Homo sapiens: one gene and its partner. The protein of the gene in region 2 interacts with the protein of the main gene of each other region in a pairwise test. Each region holds a gene or a part of one and is shown on either strand. Other genes may lie near its edges.

Evidence for each region.
Region 1: the proteins of CRYBA4 (region 2) and FHL5 interact in binary tests that used the Homo sapiens proteins (3 or more experiments, as listed by UniProt).

The regions. Positions count from the first base shown.
Region 1 is NC_000006.12:96,569,628-96,573,127, reverse strand, and holds part of FHL5 (four and a half LIM domains protein 5), read right to left. Parts: intron 1-3,500. UniProt on the Homo sapiens protein: May be involved in the regulation of spermatogenesis. Stimulates CREM transcriptional activity in a phosphorylation-independent manner.
Region 2 is NC_000022.11:26,624,963-26,628,065, reverse strand, and holds part of CRYBA4 (beta-crystallin A4), read right to left. Parts: intron 2,586-3,103; coding exon 2,444-2,585; intron 1-2,443. UniProt on the Homo sapiens protein: Crystallins are the dominant structural components of the vertebrate eye lens.

The DNA.
Region 1 (3,500 bases), on a different chromosome or scaffold from region 2:
AAATATGAATGAATGAATTACATGTATGTATGACTTTTTGGTACTGTCAAAGATAATAAATAGTTTGATACCTTGATCAGGAGAACGGTTAATCTTCTTTCTAAAAGTATTAAAGGTCAGAGAGATAGCAGCAAGATAGCCAACTAGAAGCCCCTAGTGCTTATGCCTCTGTCAAAGACAGCCAGAACAATGGAAAAGCAGCTGCATTTTAAAACTAATAGAAACTTGGGTGAGCACAAAAACTCAGGATGGCTACATAGAGAATAAGGAAATGCCAGGCCTTCACCATCCCATCCCCCAAGTGGGATCAGCTGGAAGCCAGGAGGAACTTCTTATGGTGAGGAGGTAAGCAGGATGACTCCAACAATCTCCATCAACACCCTGGACACCAACAGACCTTCCCACTGGTGTTCTCTGCAGTCTTCTTAGGCACCAAGCCCACATGGTGAAGCTGCCTGGAGTCTATATAGCTGTGCTTAGCCAGAGAAGGAGTTGACACTGTGCCCCACCTGCTGTGGCCCATGTGACTATTGGCTATGGCATCTTGGAACAGGAACTACAGCTAGACTGAGCCTTACTCAAGGAGTAAGTAGTCATGGCTCCCCTTCATCCCTGAGACTAAACCACCCCTGAACCACCCCATCCCCAGAGCCCCACATCCCCAATATGTGCTGTTAACAGCTGTTAACACTTTTTCCTGTGGGGTCAAGTGGAGGTGGAATTGCTCTACCAACTCCTCCCCCTGCCCCTGCTGAAGCAGCATCCTGTCTCTTGGGAAAACAGTACCTTGGCTATTCAGAGCAGTCATGTCTCCCTGGTGTCTAAGTTGAAGTGGTGCCCTGCATCCTAGGAAATTGTGCCTTGGCCATCCAGAGCAGTCATGCACTCCATTACTTAAGCTGAACTGATGCCCCGCATCCCAAGAAAACAGTGCTTGTGCAGCCCAGAACAGTCACATCCTTCAAGCCTGAGCTGAAGTGGCACATTGTCCCTTGGGGAATTAGTGCTCTGGCTGAGCTGAGCAGAAACTGAGCTGAGACACCTTGCTCTATAAACTGAACAATTTTAGACTTCGATTCCCCAGCACTGGCCTAGCTCTCTAGAGTCTCAGATGCAGAAGTACCCCTCTATCTAGGGAGTGGAGTCATTGCTGTGTTTTTTCCTACCCACCTGTCACCCAGGGAACAAACAACAGCTGTCCTCCACCATTCTGGAGTACTGAAAGCAAATACACTTGGCCCCACACATTCTGGGATACTGCTGAGCACCACTATCCCAGGGTCTACAATCACTACTACCCAGTGCCTCATCCCTTGGAACCTGAGTTGACACTGAGCCCTATTGACTCAGGTTTCTGAATTGCAGCCATACCCTGCTCCCAAGGCCAAAGTTCCAGAGCACTCCTTATTCCCTGGAGTCAGGCCAGTGCTGTGCCCTGCCCCCCAGGGGTAGAATCACAGCTACAACCTGGCACCCTGAGCCTGAGCTGCTAGGGGGTCCCTCAGAATCATAGATCCTGGCTCTATGGGTAACCTACATCCAACCCTGCCACAAGGGGTGAAGCTGCACCCCAAGCCCAGTTGCCTCAATAGCTTTATGAGATACTGAGCTGAAAACTCCTACTGCATGTAGAATCCTGATCACTGCACGTAGAACCCATGCCACTGCAGCTGCTTGTAGGCCATGTCAGACTTGACACCAAAAGGGATGCGCTCAGCTAAGTCTCCTTATTTTAGAGAAAACCAGAATAGGAGGACCCCAGAAGCCCTTAACACAAAGAACATTAAAAACTTATGTTGCCAGTGCCATTGCCACAAACCTCTAAGCGTAGGCTATGAGGCACCCACAGTTATTCCTGACCTTGAATACAACTGAAGAAGCTGCACAGAGACTCTATCTCTATACCTATCTGGAAACAGAGTCACTACACCTTTTCTAACTGCACAGTAAAACTCAACTGCAGGATGAAAGACTTTCTTTATGAAAATCACTCCAGAAAGTTTGAAAAAGGTGATTATTTCACTAGATACACAGACATCAATGCAGGGACACAAGAAACATGAAAAAGCAAGGAAATAAGAGACCAACAAAGGAATATAATAACTCTCTAGTAACAGACTCCAATTAAAAGGAAATCAATTAATTGCCAAAAAAATGTAAAATAATGATTGTAAGGAAACTCAATTAGATACAAGGAAACACAGATACACAATTAAATAAAATAAGAAAAAAATTCACAATATAAATGAAAAATTCAATAAAGAGATAAAAATCATAAAAAGAACAAAACAAGAATCCTGCAGTTGAAGAATTCAATGAATAAAATATAAAATACAATAGAGAGCTTCAGCAGCAGACTTGATCAAGCAGAAAAAAGAATCTCTGAACTTAAAGCTAGGTCTTTTGAAGTTACCCAGTCAGAGAAAAGAAAAAAGAAATAAGAATGAAAATGAGTGAAGAATTCCTATAAGACTTATTGGAAAACATTAAACAAACAGATATTTGTATTATGGAATTTCCAGAAGGAGAAGATAAGGAAAAAGTATAGAAAGCCTGTTTAATAAAATAATAACTGAAAACTTCCCAATTTAGTGGTGGGGGTTGTGGAGGAGGGATATTTGAACATCCAGCTCCAGGAAACTCAAAATTCCCCAAATAGATTCAACCCCAAAAAGGTCCTCTTAGAGGTACATTATAGGCAAATTGTCACAAGTCAAAGACAGAGAGTTCTAAAAACAGCAAGAGAAAATTGTCAAGTCACATAAGAGAACTGCATTAGACTAGTAAATTTTGCTACAGAAACCTCACAGGCGAGGAGAGAATAGAGTTATAAACTCAAAATGGTGAAAGAAGAAAAAAAATTGCTAGCTAAGAATACTATACCCAGCAAAGTTATCCTTCAGAAATTAGGAAGAAATAAAGCCTTCTCGAGGTAAGCAAAAACTGAAGGAATTTGTCACCACTCACCTGGCCTTACCAGAAATGCTTAAGTGATTTTCACTTACATCTGGAAGTGAAAATCACTGTCATGAAAACACACCAAAAGTATAAAGCTCATTGGTAGAGCAGATATATGAGGAGAAAGAGAAAAGAATCAAACCTTGTCACTACAGAAAACCACCAAACCACAATGATTAACTATAAGAGAAAAAGAAAGGAACAAAAGATATACAAGACAACAGGAAAACAACAAAATGGTGGATGTTAAGTCCTCACTTATCAATAATAACCTTGGCTGTAAACAGACTAAATTCCCAACTGAAAAGATATAGACTAGCTGAATGAATTAAAAAAAAAAAAGACCTAAGTATATGCTGCCTAAAAGAAACTCACTTCACCTAAAAAGACACATATAGAATAAAAATAAGGGATGGAAAAAAAATCCATACAAATGGAAACCAAAAGCAAGGGAGAATAGCTATACTTATATCAGGTAAAGCAGACTTTAAACAAAAAGAGACAAGGTTATTTTCACTTCAGCAAGAAGATGTAACAATTGT
Region 2 (3,103 bases):
ATCATAACAGTTTTTTCAAAAACAAACAAACAAAAAAAGGAGTCAACTTTTATGTCCAAAATTGGGGATCCAGTGGTAAGCTGAGGCATTACACTGTGGTTAAGAAAAAGGGTGTAGAGGCCCGGCGCGGTGGCTCACGCCTATAATCCCAGCATTTTGGGAGGCCGAGGAGGGTGGATCACCTGAGGTCAGGAGTTCAAGACCAGCCCGACGAACATGGTGAAACCCTGTCTCTACTAAATACAAAAAATTAGCCAAGCGTGGTGGCACATGCCTGTAATCTCAGCTACTTGGGAGACTGAGGCAGGAGAATCGCTTGAACCTGGGAGGCAGAGGTTGCAGTGAGCCGAGATTGTGGCATTGCACTCCAGCCTGGACAACAAAAGCAAAAACTCCATCAAAAGAAAGAAAGAAAGAAAGAGAGAGAGAGAAGGAAGGAAGGAAGGAGAGAGAGAGAAAGAGAAAGAAAGAAAGAGAAAAAGAAAGAAAAAGAAAGACAGAGAATGAAAGAAGGAAAGAAAGAAAGAAAAGGAAAGAAAGAGAAAGAAAGAAAGAAAGAAAGAAAGAAAGAAAGAAAAGGAAAGAAAGAGAAAGAAAGAAAGAAAGAAAAAGAAAGAAGGAAAGAAAGAAAGAAAGAAAAAGAAAGAAAGAAAGAAAGAAAGAAAGAAAGAAAGAAAGAAAGAAAGAAAGAAAGAAAGAAAGAAAGGAGGGAGGGAGGGAGGGAGGGAGGGGAAAGGAAAAGAAAAGAAAAGAAAAAAGAAGGAAAGAAAGGAGGTGTAGAGATATCATCTCAAATCCTTCCTGCTAGGAGGCAGCTGCCACTTACCAACTGACTGAGGTTAGACAGGATTTCTGAGCCTCTGTTCCTGTATCTATAAAATGAAACTAACCCTACCCATTTTTCAGGGTTCTTTTGAGGACTAAATGAAATCAGGAGTTGCAAACTGCTGGGAATGAGGGATTGTTTCTGTTGCAGCCCGCCACGGGTCCCTATATTAGCACAATATCTAGACTGTTTGCAGAATAAATGAACAAATGGACTTATTCACAAAACAGAATACTAGGGAGCTATGAAAAACGATGGAAGTGAGATTTAATCACCTGGACTGATGATTGCGACACATTTGCTCAGTGAGAAAAGCTAGTTTCCAAGCCTTAGATTCATTATGATTCCAATTTTATGACAAAATTATGTGTGCAATATAGATAAGATATATAGATTATACAGATATAGATGTAGATGTTGATTTGGATGTGTATATACATAGAGACACAAATGTATAGGTTGAACATCCCTAACCTAAAAATCCGAAATCCAAAATGCTCCAAAATCTAAAACTTTTTGAGTGACGACATGACACTCAAAGAATGCTCACTGCAGTATTTCAGATTTTGGATTTTTGGATTCAGGCTGCTCAACTGTAAGTATTACAAATATTGCAAAATCTGGGGAAAATATTCAAAATCCAAAACACTTCTGGTCCCAAGCATTTCAGGTAAGGGATACTCAACCCTGACCATAGCAGGATTTTCCTTCAGAATTTTGGATGGTAAATATGGTGACTTATGTCATTTTAAATCAATAAGAATTGAAAAATAAAACACACTTTGTTGTTTTTGTGTTTGTTTGTTTGTTTTTGTTTTTTTGTTTTGTTTTGTTTTGAGACAGAGTCTTGCTCTGGCGCCCAGGCTGGAATGCAGTGGTGCGATCTTGGCTCACTGCAACCTCTGTCTCCCGGGTTCAAGTGATTCTCCTGCCTCAGCCTCCTGAGTAGCTGGGACTACAGGCATGTGCCACCACACTCAACTAATTTTTTTGTATTTTCAGTAGAGACAGGGTTTCACCATGTTGGCCAAGCTGATCTTGAACTCCTGGCCTCAAGTGATCTACCCGCCTTGGCCTCCCAAAGTGCTGGGATTACAGGTGTGAGCCACCATGCCCAGCCTAAAATACACCTTTCTGAGCCTCAATGTTTTCATTGGTGAGATGGGAATAATAATGCCCACCTCCACCCACACTCCAAAAACAGCAGTAAAATGTAAGATCAGGAGCACTGATGCTGAATTAGGAGCAAGAAATGAAACCTTTCCTCTCCACTTGGCCCTACCATCCCTGGTACCCAGATTCTCTCAGGGTCCCTGAATCACAAAAAAAAAAGGGCACAAAACTGGCAGGGGCTCCTATCACAACCAGGGTTGCTGTGAGCAGAGAGTTTAAGGCAGGCTCTGGTCAGATGTTATACGTTCTTCTTCCCAAGAACATTGGTACTATTGCCCCATTTCAAGATGAAGAAACCGAGGCTTGGAGAGGAAAGAGACTGAACAGCCCTTGTCACACAGCTTGAAGTGGCGACATGAGAATTTCAACTCTGGAACCTTTGATTCCGAAGTGCCCACATGAGGGGCTTGGGCCTCCCCGGGATGCAGCAGTGGTAGAACTTACAGCACAGGCCGCAGGCCGGAAGGAGGTGAGCCTCTCGGCGGGGTAGGCCGTGTTGCCGCCCCAGGCATCCCAGCTTGGATATTCGCCTCGTTCCAGAATGTACTGCTGCCCTTGGAAGCCAGCATGCTCAAAGCCCACCCACCTGCAGACAGAGGGTAGAGTGTGCAGGAGGTAAGCGTCCCCCTCACCCTGCATTCTAGACCAGCAATTGGGTCTAGAACGGTCACAGTCACAACCATTCAGGGGTGACTGTGCCCCCAGGAAACACTTGACGATGGCTGGAGACATTTTTGGTTGTCACGACTAGGGGAGGGACTGCGAAGGCCATCTATCGGGTAGAGGCCAGGGATACCACTAAACATCCCATAATGCACAGGCCAGCCTTCCCTGCAAAGGATGATCCAGCCCGAAACATCAGTAGCGCCAGAGTTGAGGAACCCAGCTCTAGACCTCACTTGCTGTGTGTCCCATAGGTAGGGAAACTGCTTCACACAGGTGCCCTGACAACCTTGCTCCTCCGTCCGTGTCCACAGAGGCCAAGGAGGCAAAGCTGATCACAGACTGATCTCACCTTGGTGGAATTCCCCGTGATCCTGCCAGGGTGTGGGAGACGGGCAGTCTTGCAAGGAGCGACCGCATGGCCATCTCTCATTTTCCTCC